Linked DNA regions of Homo sapiens: regions 2 and 3 are each linked to region 1. The links come from fine-mapping of genetic effects on gene expression. A gene starts in region 1. Each other region holds a variant in brackets. All regions are shown on one strand. Distances are from middle to middle.

What was found. PIP is the estimated chance that this variant, and not a neighbour inherited with it, causes the effect.
Region 2: its variant is the best candidate, but not a certain one, in a credible set for the expression of OSGIN2 in subcutaneous fat (FUSION, PIP 0.71).
Region 3: its variant is the best candidate, but not a certain one, in a credible set for the expression of OSGIN2 in blood mononuclear cells (TOPMed, PIP 0.86).

What each region holds. Positions count from the first base shown.
Region 1 is chr8:89,900,036-89,904,387 of GRCh38, forward strand. It overlaps OSGIN2 (oxidative stress induced growth inhibitor family member 2), which reads left to right and starts at 2,535. Exons shown (of 6, transcript NM_001126111.3): 1 at 2,535-2,802. The coding sequence starts at 2,759. LOC124901974 (a long non-coding RNA gene) reads right to left here and starts at 2,371. Exons shown (of 2, transcript XR_007061001.1): 1 at 1,984-2,371. It also overlaps the pseudogene RNU6-925P. RefSeq lists enhancers at 414-1,179, 1,180-1,945 and silencers at 2,239-2,537, 2,287-2,626, 2,657-3,106, 4,100-4,159.
Region 2 is chr8:90,097,529-90,101,880 of GRCh38, forward strand. No RefSeq gene overlaps it. Among named protein-coding and RNA genes, the nearest start is that of CALB1, 17 kb to the left of the region's middle. RefSeq lists enhancers at 214-886, 887-1,558. The variant AAC/A (reference allele first, on the strand shown) is at 2,303.
Region 3 is chr8:89,937,964-89,941,963 of GRCh38, forward strand. All of the region lies in intron 14 of NBN (nibrin), which reads right to left. Among named protein-coding and RNA genes, the nearest start is that of OSGIN2, 37 kb to the left of the region's middle. The variant A/G (reference allele first, on the strand shown) is at 1,694.

The DNA.
Region 1 (4,352 bases):
CTCCCATGTTTATTGCAGCACTGTTCACAACAGCCAAGATTTGGAAACAACCTAAGTGTCCATCAATAGACAAATAAAGAAAATGTGGTTTATGTACACAACGTAGTAGCATTCAGCCATAAAAATGAATGAGATCCTGTTATTTTCAACAAAATGGATGCAACTGATGTCACTACTTTAAGTGAAATAGGCCAGGTACAGAATGACAAACTCTGCATGTTCTCACTTATTTGTGGGAGCTAAAAATTAAAACAACGGAACTAACAGAGAATAGAATGATGGTTACAAGGCTGGGCAGGGTAGTGGGGAATTAAGGGGCAGAGTGGGGATGGTTAATAGGTACAAAAGTATAGACAGAATTAGATCTAGTATTTGACAGCACGAGAGTGACTAGTCAACGATAATTCATTGAACATTTTAAAATAACTAAGTATAATTAGATTGTTTGTAGCACAAAGAAAGGATAAATATTTGAGGTGATGGATACTCCATGTACCCTGATGTGATTATTACTTATTGTATGCCTGTATCAAAATCTCATGTACCCCATAAATATATATACCATGTACTCACAAAAAATAAAAATTAAAAATTAAAAGAATTATCTGGATTGGACTGGCATAGCTTTCAGGAATTTATATGTTTATTTTTAATTTTTTTGGTTACATAGTAGGTGTATATATTTAAAAATACGGAACGCTTCACGAATTTGCGTGTTATCCTTGGGAAGGGGCCATGCTAATCTTTATATTATTCTAATTTTAGTATATGTGCTGCAGAATTAAGCACTGCTTTTAGGAATGTAGGTACTTTATTTATTTATTTTTGAGACGGAGTCTCGCTCTGTCGCCCAGGCTGGAGTGCAGTGGCGCGATCTTAGCTCACTGCAAGCTCCGCCTCCCGGGTTCACGCCATTCACCATGGTCTCGATCTCCTGACCTCGTGATCTGCCCGTCTCGGCCTCCCAAAGTGCTGGGATAACAAGCGTGAGCCACCGCGCCCGGCCAGGTACTTTATTATTATTTTTTGATACGGAGTCTCACTCTTTGGCCCAGGCTGAGTGCAGTGGCGCGATCTCAGCTCACTGCAACCTCCGCCTCCCGGTTTCAAGCGATTCTCCTGCATCAGGCTCTTGAGTAGCTGGGATTACAGGCGCGTGCCACCACGCCCGGGGCTAGGTTTTGTATTTTTAGTAGAAACGGGTTTCACCATGTTGGTCAGGCTGGTCTGGAACTTCTGACCTCAGGTGATCCGTCCGCCTCGGCCTTCCAAAAGGAATTTAGGTACTTTAAAATGCTGTTATGTATGTTAACGGAAAAGTAACTACATGCTTCATTTTCAGAACCAACATTCAAATGAAATGAACGTGTCAAATCGACAAAAGCTCAAAAAAGAGAAAAACATATAATACTTAAAAGTGGTTAATATACTCTTAGATTGCATAACTCTGGGGCAGTCTGAGTCCTATGATTTTCTTTTAAGACCCCAAGACTCTAAAATACCTGCTCATCACAAGTTTGTTCAGTGACAACATTCAGTAAAACTTAACATTTGTTTTACAAAATTATGTTGAAAGATATAAACATAAACGTATATTTGAAGCACAAAAATAATTACGGCTTTTTTTGGAAGCGGAGTTAGACATTTCCGTAGAAAAGTAGATGCAATCAATCTCTCCTGATTTTTGTCCTCCCCACCTTTAATTTTTGACAAACCGAATAACGACACTCACTATTGAGTACTTTTCTAACTCCCTATTGCATCACAAACGCCCGCAGGGGCTTAAAAAGCAGCAGGGGTTCCTGCCCTTCCCCACACTGGCCGGTGTGGTCTGGGGCGGGCCTGATGAGCACCTGGATTTTCACCCGGCGTGCTGGTAATTCCTACACTTGTGGGTGTTTGAGAGACATGAAGAGGGGAGGATGACCTCTTCCCGGAAGCGGGACTTCCATAAAAGAAGCGTGGTGGGCGGGTCCCGGGCACCTGTGGTTTGGTGAGTCCTCCAGGTAACTGTGATGCGGGGGTCAGCGGGAGAGGCACCCGGAAGCTCCCGGCGTCTGCACCCCGGCAGCGCGAGGAAATGCCCAAAGGTGGGTTCTCAGGCGTGGGAAGCTCGACCCTTCCCGGGGTCCTCGGCGAAGTGGCCGAGGCCGCGCCTTACGCAGGGAACTCCGCCGGGCCATCTGGGTGGCCCGAGTTCGCAGCAGCTTCTCTTCCGCTCGTCCCTCGGCCCTCTCGACGCGCACCCACCGGCCTCACCAAGTCGCACGCAGAGGGGCGGCGGGGCGCTGACCGAGGTCTAGGTCTCGATTGCCGCCGGTCGAGCCGCGCAGTTTGCCTGCAGACCTCGGTCCCCTGCCCGCGCAGCCTCGGCTCCATCAGGCCCGGCCCCTCGCCCGGGCCGTGGCTCCACCAATCGCAGACTTCGCCCGCCGCAGCCGCACCTGCGAGGAGGGGCCCGCGCGCCGCTGCAGCCGCCGTCGCAGCGTCCCCGCCCCGCTCCGCCCCTATCGCGGCGCCCCGAGATCACCCGCCTCCGGCGCCTGGCTCCCTGCAGGCGAGGAGCGGAAGCCGCTATCTGGAGGCGGACTCCGGCGCCACAGAGCCGGGGCAGCCGCGGCAACGGCGAGGCGCGAGGCAGGGGCGCCCGGCAGACCCCGCGACCCCGAGCCAGCGGGCGCCCCGAGCGGGCAGCCTCGCCGGGGGAGGCGGAGGCGGCCACGGCGGCCGCGCTCGGGCGCCCCTCGCGCAGCGCTCCATGCCCGTGTGGTGCTGCCGCTGCTCCCTGGCCGGTCATTTCAGGTGACTTCCTCGCCGGGGATGGGAGGGGAGCAGGCGGGGATGCCGCGCTCTCGAGCTTTTTGGCCTGGCCCGGGCCGGGACCGGGGTGGAGGGCGAGCGCCTGGACCGCAGCGTCCTCCCGCCTCGGCCGTCCTGCCTGGCGTGGGGGTGGGGTGGGGTGCGGTGTGGTGGGGTCCTTGCTCCGGGGAGCCCTGCGCTGTTCCCTTTTCTCGCTCTGGACCGCGCGGGTCACGGGACTGCGGGATCGGCTAGGCCGGACTGAGTCGGTTACGGCGAGCTGAGACTTCCCAGTAGTGCAAAGTTTTAGTGAAGGGGGTTCTACGAAGTGCCTGCCTCCCTAAAAAAAAATTATTTCTTAAAAAGTCTTCTAAATAATGTAATGAGTGGAAGGAAGGTAGGGAACTACATTTCAGTGTCATCTAATCACAAATAGATTCTGCCTTGTTAAGATGTTAGCCATGGTAAGACGTGTGTGTTGTAGAAATTTAAAGAATGAGGCGGTTTTACAATCACCTTATGGGGAAAGGTTTTAGGGGTGATAAAATATAATACATTTCTAAAATAAAAGTATGTTTTCTAGATCTAGCACATTTGGTCAACACCTCAGTCATTGGTGGAAAGACCAGACACTAGAAACTGATTTTAACCCTGGGGTGAAGAATGGTTAAGCATAGGGAATACTTTAGTACCTTGCTTTACATATACTGATGTTCCAGAATAATTCTATGTAAGACTTCTTCCCTGGTAAAATATGAAATTTTGATCAAGCCTTCCTAAATAGTGGGTTTCATACAATTTAGGTAACCCATGAACTTGGATGGAAAGAAAGGTATATCATTTCACTAAATTTTAAAAACTAATATTCAGTTAAAATATAAGCAACAAATCACAGTAGTATCTGTGACTGTCATCAGTAGAGATCATAAAATATGTTTATATCACATTGCAGTTAATATAGAAATACTGTTTATACTTATTCAAAATTATAGTAACACATCACTGAATTTATTGAATGCAACAGAGAAGCACATATATATATCGCGTTTACTTTTTATGACTGTTTTAATAGAATTAGTTTTCTTGTAAATCCTGTGTATATTTAAGAACAGTATTCAGAGAAGAGGTTAAGAAGCGTCATCCTATAGTAAAAGAGATGTAAGGCATAGAGAAAGTTTGGAACTTCTTTTGTAACAGCGATAATCCAAGCTTGTCTAACCTCTCAGTGAGTTTAGAATGAGTCTCTAGGTTGTGGATATTAAGGAAAAATTGTTTCATATAATAAACTGCTTGATTTTAACTTTTAGGCAAATTTGTTGACTACTGAGACAGCGGTTTGAAGGTATCAGATTCACTATGGAAACTTTTAGGAAATAGGTTCCCCTAGTGAAACTTGTTAAACTAAATAAAGCCCATGAGAATCTAACATGCCTTTCAGAAAATATTGTGTGAAAGCTATTTGACACCTTTTGATGCACAGTGTAGGATTCATATTCTTTTGACTAATACTGGGTGTTGAATACCATTTGCTTCCTGCCGTGCACAGAAATTTG
Region 2 (4,352 bases), 200 kb after region 1:
AGAGTGAAGAAGAAGAGTTTTACTTAGTGTCAGAACAACTCTGAGGAGTAGGTAGCTCCTCTCTGTGGACAGGTCGTCCCGTCGAGTGTTCAGCTCTCAGCAGAGAGGAGGTTCTGGAGAGGGTGGCTCCTCTCCGCAGGCATCTCTGCAGGTCTCTGAAGCTCTCAGCCGAGAGGGTAGCTCCTCTCTGCCAGCAAGTCGTCCCTGCAGCTCTTGGCGGAGAGGGCACTCCTCTCTCAGCTGAGGAGTCCCTGGAGAGGTTGTCTCTGCAGCTCTCAGCAGAGAGGAGGCCCTGGAGAGGATGGCTCCTCTCCACAGGTGTCTCTAGAGGTCTCTGAAGCTCTCAGTAGAGTGGGTAGATCCTCTCTGCCGGCAGGTAATTTCTGCAGCTCTTGTCCCAGAGGGTACTCCTCTCTCATCAGAGAGGAGGTCCTGGAGAGGTGGCTCCTCTCCGCGGGAGTCTCTCCGGGTCTGTGAAGCTCTCAGTGCAGAGGGTAGCTCCTCTCTGCCTGCAGGTCGTCTCTGCAGCTCTCGGCGGAGAGGGTGCTCTTCTCTGCAGTTAGTCGTCCCATTGTCTCCAGCTATCAGCAGAGAGGGTACGTCTCATTGAAGCTGGTCACCCAGTCCCATGAACTCTCTCTACTCTCTGGGTCCTCTGGCCATACTCTGCACTGCTCTGGCTGAGCCCAGGGCTCTTATAGACCTCAGAGGGGAGGAAGTGCATGGGGATTGGCCCATGGGTGGCCATGGGCGGGCCCAGAGAGGCACCATGAGTTCCCACTCTGGTGACGGACTGGCCACCTGGCCCTCAGCCTTCAGGCCCTCCCTGTCCTGAAGGTGGAGACTTACTGGGGACCTACCCCCTTCCACCCAGGACTCTTTCTGCCTCCCACTGCCATTCAAATTCAAGGCCCCGGGTCACTGCCCCAACCCCACTTCAAGATCAGAACCAGCATCAGAAGCAGAGAGAGGCCAGGCAGTGGGAGCAGACACCCCCGAACCTGCGACGGGGGAGGGTCCTTCCTGCAGCCCTCTAGGGTGCAGGGTGCAGAGACGCCCAGGTCCTGCGCCTAGGAGGGTGGCCGCAGCCGCACCTGGGAAGGCAGATCCAGCCTGCTCCAGGCCTTCCCCAAGAGCACAAGGAGGCTCCCATCGAGGGCTGCAGTTTGGGCAGCTGTAGTCCCATCCAGGAGGAAGGGGCTTCTGCTTGCTCCATAGAGCAGGAGGCCTGGGTCTGCAGCTGGGTTTGGGCAGCTGCAGTGGCACGGGAAGAGCTGCAGCTCCAACTCAGAAGGGGTGGGGCTGCCACCGGCTCCATGGTGCGTGCAGCCTGAGCCATGCCTCCTTACTGCAGCCAGCGTGATGGCCACTGCCATCACATTTGGTGTTCTCGTTAAGTGTGATATTAGCTGTAGTTTTTTTTCATAGCTGTCCTTGATCAGTTTAGGTAGGTTCTTTTCCCAGTTTAAGAGTTTTGAAATTATCAATTGGTGTCAGATTTTGTTAAACACTTTCTGTGTATCACTTGAAGTGACACACAGATACACAGATCATATATGTGGTTTGTTTTGCCTTTTTTTTCTTTTCTTCTTTCTAACTGCATATGATGAGCAATTTTACTACTTTCAAGATTTTTTCTTTGTCTTTATCTTTCATCAGTTTAACTATGACACATCTGGGTGTAGAAACTTTATCCTGCTTAAAGTTCATTGAGCTTCTTGAATATGTAGATTAATATTTTTCATTAAACTTTGGAATTTTTGGTCATTATTAATTTTTTTTTCTATTTTTTTCTCTTTTTGCTCTCCACCTTGGACTCTAATTACACATGCTTAGTATGGTTGATGTTGTTCCAAAGGCCTTTGAAGTTCTGTTGACTTTTCTTCAATCTTTTTTCTCTGCTATTCAGACTGAATTATAACTACAGTTCTATTGTCAAGTCATTGATTCTCCCTTCTGTCATCTCAAATTTGCTGTTGAGCCTCTTGAGTGAATTTTTCATTTTAGTTATTGTAATTTTCAACCCCAAATTTCTATTTCATCCTTTTCTTTTTAAAAATAATTTCTATCTCTCTGAGTTATTTTTATAAGCATATTTATTTTATATATGGTAAATAATATGTTTTGATATGTATACACAGGCATACATCAGAGATGTGAGTTCAGTTCCAGACTACAGCAATAAAGCCAATCTCACAATAAAGCAAGTCACACAAAATTTTTTTTCTAGCACATATAAAATTATATTTCCAATATACTGTAGTCTCTTGTATGCAATAGCACTATGTCAAAAAAAAAAAAA[AAC/A]CAGTGTGCCTGCCTTAATTTAAAAATATTTTATTGCTAAAAATGCCAATGATCACCTGAGCCTTCAGTGAGTCATCACCTTTTTGCCAGTGGAGGGGTTTTGCCTTGATGTTGATGGCTCCTGACTGATCAGGGTGGTGGTTGCTGAAGTTTAGGATGGCTGTGGCAATTTCTTAAAATAAGACAACAATTAAGTTTGCCATATTTATTGACCGTTTCTTTCATAAAAGATTTCTCTATAGCACGAGATGCTATCTGATAGCATCTTATGCACAGTAGAACTTCTATCAAAATTGGAGGCAATCCTCTGACACCCTGTCACTGCTTTATCAACTAAGTTGATGTAATCTTCTAAATTCTTTGTTGTCATTTCAACAGTGTTCACAGCATCGCTACCAGGAGTAGACTGATCTCAAGAAACTACTTTCTTTGCTCACCCATAAGAAGCAACTCCACATCTATTATAGTTTAATCATGAGATTGTAGCAATTCAGTCACATTTTTTTTTTTTTTTTTTCTGAGACAAGATCTTACTCTGTCACCCAGACTGGAGTGCAGTTACATGAACACAGCTCACTGCAGCCTCAGCCTCCTGGGCTCAAACAATCCTTCTGCCTCAGCCTCCTGAGCAGCTGGCACCATAGGCATGTGCCATTATGCATGCCTCATTTTTTGATTTTTGTAGAGATAGGGTCTCACTATGTTGCTCAAGATGGTCTTGAACTCTTGCCCTCAAGCAGTCCTCTTGCCTAGGCCTCCCAAAGTGCTGGGATTACAGGTGTGAGCCACTGCATCTGGCCAGGCTCCATTTCTAATTCTAGTTCTCTCGTTATTGTCATTATGTCTGCAGTTACTTCCTGCACTAGTCTTGAATCAAAGTCATCCACAGAGGTTGGAATCAACTTCTTTCAAATCCCTGTTAATGTGGATATTTTGACCTTCTACCATGAATCACAAATGTTTTTAATGGCATTTAGAATGGTGAATTCTTTCCAGAAAGTTTCAGTTTACTTTGTCCAGATTCATCAGAGGAATTATTATCTTTGGTAGCTATAGCATCATGAAATGTATTTCTTAAATAATAAGACTTGAAATTAGAAATTACTCCTTCATCCATGGGCTACAGAATTGTTGTGTTAGCAGACATGAAAACAAAATTAATCTCCATGTACATCTCCGTTAGAGCTCTTGAGAGCCCAGATGCATTGCCAATGAGCAGGAATTTTGAAAGGAATCATTTTTTTTTTTCAGAGCAGTAGGTCTCAACAGTGGGCTTAAAATATCCAGTAAACCATGCTGTAAACAGATGTGCTGTCATCCGGCTTTGTTTTCCATTTATTGAGCATAGGCAGAGTAGACTTAGGGCAATTCTTAAGGGCTCTAGAATTTTTGAAATCATAAAAGATGTAGACTTCAATTTAGAGCCACCAGATGCATTAGCCCTAAACAAGAGATTCAGACTGTTCTTTAAAGATTTGAAGCCAGTCATTGACTTCTCTCTAGCTATGAAAGTCCTAGATGGAATTTTCTCCCAATACTAGGCCATTTTGTCTACATTAAAAAAATCTGTTGTTGGCTGGGTACGGTGGCTTACGCCTATAATCCCAGCACTTTGGGAGGCTGAGGTGGGCGGATTGCCTGAGGTCAGGAGTTCGTGACCAGTCTGGCCAACATGGTGAACCCCATCTCTACTAAAAATACAAAAAAGTTAGCCAGGTTTGGTGGTGTACACCTGTAATCCCAGCTACTTGGGAGGCTGAGGCAGGGGAATTGCTTGAACCAGGGAGGTGGAGGTTGCAGTGAGCCAAGATCGTGCCACTGCACTACAGCCTGGGCGACAGAGCAAGACTCTGTCTCAAAAAAAAAAAAAAATTCTGTGTTTAGTGTATGCTTAGTGTAGCCACCTTTATCAATTATCTTAGTCAGATCTTTTGGATAACATTCTACAGCTTCTATATCAGCACTTCCTTCTTCACCTTATACTTTTATGTTATGATGATAGCTTCTTTCCTTAAACCTTATGAACCAACCTCTGTTATCCTCAGTCA
Region 3 (4,000 bases), 38 kb after region 1:
ATCTTTAAAGGTACATTCATTCAATACTTATTTAGTGCCTACTATGTTTCAAGGAACATGTTCTTCCCCTCTTTAGCAAAGGCTTCCTGATCCCCTTCTTCTAAAAATAATGCCTGCTGTGAAGAACTCTCCCAAAACTTCAGCTACAGAATTCCCAGGATGCTTATCAATTTCTACCTTCTGTTATAATTATTTATATTTGTACCCTATCCTCTCTAAAAGACCAGAAGTTCCTTAAATACAGATAGAGTAAGTCCTGACTTAATGTTTTTGATATTTCTTGGAAACTGCAACTGTAAGTGAGATGACATACAGCAGTTCCTTGAATCATGTTGTTTTGTTGTAATAATGAGAAAAAATATTGGTTATGTAATTTTGCTTAAAGTTGCAGTTTCCAAAAACCTACTGACAATGTTAAGGACTTACTGTGTTTATTTTTACTGTTACTAATTTACATTTGAATGCTTCCAGATACTATCTTAAACTCTCTCTCTCTCTCTATATGTGTGTGTGTGTATATATATATATGAAATCTCACTTAATCTTCATGTAACTTCATTACTATTATACTATTATCTCAGTTTTAACCAATGAGGTAACAGAGACTTAGGTTAGGTAAACCTGCAGAAGATAGGGGAACTCAGATGGAATAGCTGGGATTTGACCAGGTCTACCTTATTAAGAGCACCAGCTCTTAACGAGGCTGCCTCAGGGCTTCTGAATCTCTAGAGCAAGCCTACAAGAGTGACTTGCAGGGATTCGATCTTACAGACTGATTTTTCTATCATATAGTGAAACAAAATTACATCTTATCTTTTCATATTTTCTAATAGGGATAGCAAAACATAAATGGGAAGACATCATTTTAATAAAACAGCTGTCAAAATAACTACTGGCAACATTTTTCTAAACATTCTTAGAGGTTGCCTGGGGAATAAAGTTGTAGCATAGTAAGGAAAAACCACTGAGGAGAAAGCAGTTTTATTTCATATATTTCAGTAAAAACATATAAAATAGTATTAAGAAACAGAAATGCCTCATATTACTGGCATTTTTCAGAGGTCTGAGATAACTACTACTCACAGTCTTTCAAATTCAAATCAGGTTGGATACAGTTCAAATAATTTTTATGTTTGATGTACACAATGAAAATATCCTAAATTCAAGGGAACTTCAGGAACTGACGCAGTGATTATGAAAATCAAGACTGGTGGGTCTGCAGCAGAGGTAGAGAAAGAAGGGATGAAAAAGAAAAATAGGGAGGGAATATAGAAAAAGAATAGCTGCAGCAAACAGGGAAATGAGATGGCAGTACAGAACATTTACATAAATAAGCAGTAGCCATGCAGCAAAAGCAAGTCAAGTCTGTTATAGAGTAAGTCCTACCAATAGCAACTAAAATGATTCTAGCAAAAAGAGAAGTGATTTGGTGAAATCATCTAGAACACAGTCCATCTAATTCCTAATGAAATAAGCAAAAAAAAAATAGAAAAAAGTCAGCAGCTGTATGATGTATCATCATTCTCTCAACTTCTCCCATCTAAAATTAATCAAACAAAACTCGACAGTGTTAATTAATCAAGGAGAAGAGTTTAAGCCATGCCATACGCTTAAAAAGTGCAGCTGTAAAAAGAACCAAATGATTCTGATGCAGCTGATTCCTAATACTGTCTCAATCCATTAAAAGTGCTAC[A/G]CAACTGGTCAAACCTGAGGATTCTTACTAATGCCCCAAATTTGGGGAAAAGGTAACCTGAACAGGGAAAACAACTGCCAGTGGGCTGCTGGGAAGGGACTAATGGTGTAGAAGGTAAAGAAGCAGGGCTGACACTGACCAAACACATAGGCTCCAAGGATCCCTAACAAATTAGGTAAACAACCTAATAATGCTAGGTTATTCTCTTTTATATAGGGCACACTCCCTGGTATAGGACATTTAATTAAAATCCCAGGAGACAGCTAGCCCAAGCTGCACACAGCTCCAGCTGAGCCTTTCCTCTCCCAGATTCAATGTCTTCAGACAACAGAAACTAGATGGGATATGCCATGTGCCACTGACTGTTTCAGCATAATGCCATACTGACAGTGAGGCATGAGGGAATTCTGTTCTTTAATTTTTATTTTATTTATTATTATTATTTTTGAGATGTGGCCTTGCTCTGTCACCAAGGCTGAAGTGCAGGGGCTCAATCATGGCTCACTGCAACCTTAACCTCCCAGGCTCAAGCAATCTTCCCACCTCAGCCTCCTGAGTAGCTGGGACTATGGGCACATGCACTACCATGACCCGCTAATTTGTTGTGTTTTTTTGTTTGTTTGTTTAATTTTCATTTATTTATTTTTTTGTAGAGACAGGGTCTCAAGATGTTGTGCAGGCTACTCTTAACTCCCGGGTTCAAGTGATCCTCCTGCTCCCAAAGTGCTGGGGTTATAGTCATGAGCCACACCATTGTGCCTGGCTGAATTCTGTTCTTATGGGCAAGACAAGAATGTTAGAAGTAATTTTGATTATACTGAATTTCTGTCTCACAAACTGGCTTCTGAATGTAATCCCTGCATGAGATGGCATATGATCCTTTATGTAGCAAACAGAATATCTGGAAAAGACATTTCCCTTTACTCAAGTGAAGGCAAAAAACAGAAAAGCTACTCCATCTACTAGAGGAAAAAAAAAAAAAGGGATATTGGAACAGAACATGCAAAAAACAGATAAAGAACCTAATCTGCAGGAAATAATAATCCACGAATAAAAAGTAAAATAGAAACATGAAAGCAATGAAATAATGACAAAAAATCAGATAATAGAACAATGAAATGAAAAAAGAACAAATGCTAAGTAAAAGAACCATAATAACAGCCTTTCAGAATTAAATTAGAAATAGCTAACACTTCCCACTGTTATAAATGATTTATATGTAGTATCTGATTTAATCCTCATATGTCTGTGAAATAAAGGTACTATTATTATTCTCATTCTGCACAGATGGAAGCAGAGACATTAAGTAATTTGCCTAAGGTCACATACTTGGTGAGAAACATTATAGACACACCTGAAATGTAAAATTTTGATACAGTGAAAGAGCCTAAGAAAACCACAGTGAATGCAGAAAAAATAGATGTGGACGACAAAGGTAATCCAATGAAAGGATAGTTATGTCTTAAATGTCTTATAGAGAGCCCAGCAAATATAAAATATTTAAAATATATAATAGAAAAAAGTTCCTTGAGAAAGAGAATTACACCTGCAAATCAAAACAGCATACTATATGTCAGGAAAAACTAATGGAGAATGATCAACACTGAGATGTATTCTGAGTGTTACTGGCTTTCGAGCTTAAGAAAGATGACTGGTCATGCATGCAAGTCACCTAAAAAGGGAAAAACAGGACTGGCATAAGGTAAGGGAGGCTAGGTGGGAGGAAGTACTAATAATGTCCTCACTTTTCACTGTAGCGAGCCAACAAATAATTGTATGTGAAGTTAATATGAAGTTTAAAACTACCCATTCCGACTTACAGTGATTTTTATAGTTTTCCTCCTTAATATTAGACAGATCTCACAAAATAAAATATCTTGGAGGGAAGAAACATTTATAGAAATTCAGCAATGCCTTCAGTTTAACTTCCTCCTATCAATGTCTCTCTCTTCCTTCCCAGTCTGTCCCTGCCTCTCACTACTCCTCAATGAAGAGATGTCTGGAATATTGTTCACTTAACTGTTTAAATAGGTAATTTCTGGGCTTTAGGTTTTCACATCTTCATTCTTTGTGTACTGCCATAATTCTGTGGAATGCACATGTTACAAAATAAGCCAATTATTCTTTCAAAAAAGAAAAGGAGAAAGGATGTGATTTCCATTCTTTCATTTTTTAAAAATAAGTATCCTGAGTGACCTTAACAACTCTACTTTCATAAGTGACTTTCCTAAATAACCCTTATTTTAAAATAACTGAGAAAAAAGCACTTTTAAAAGTGAATTACACTATACCCACTATAAAGCAAAA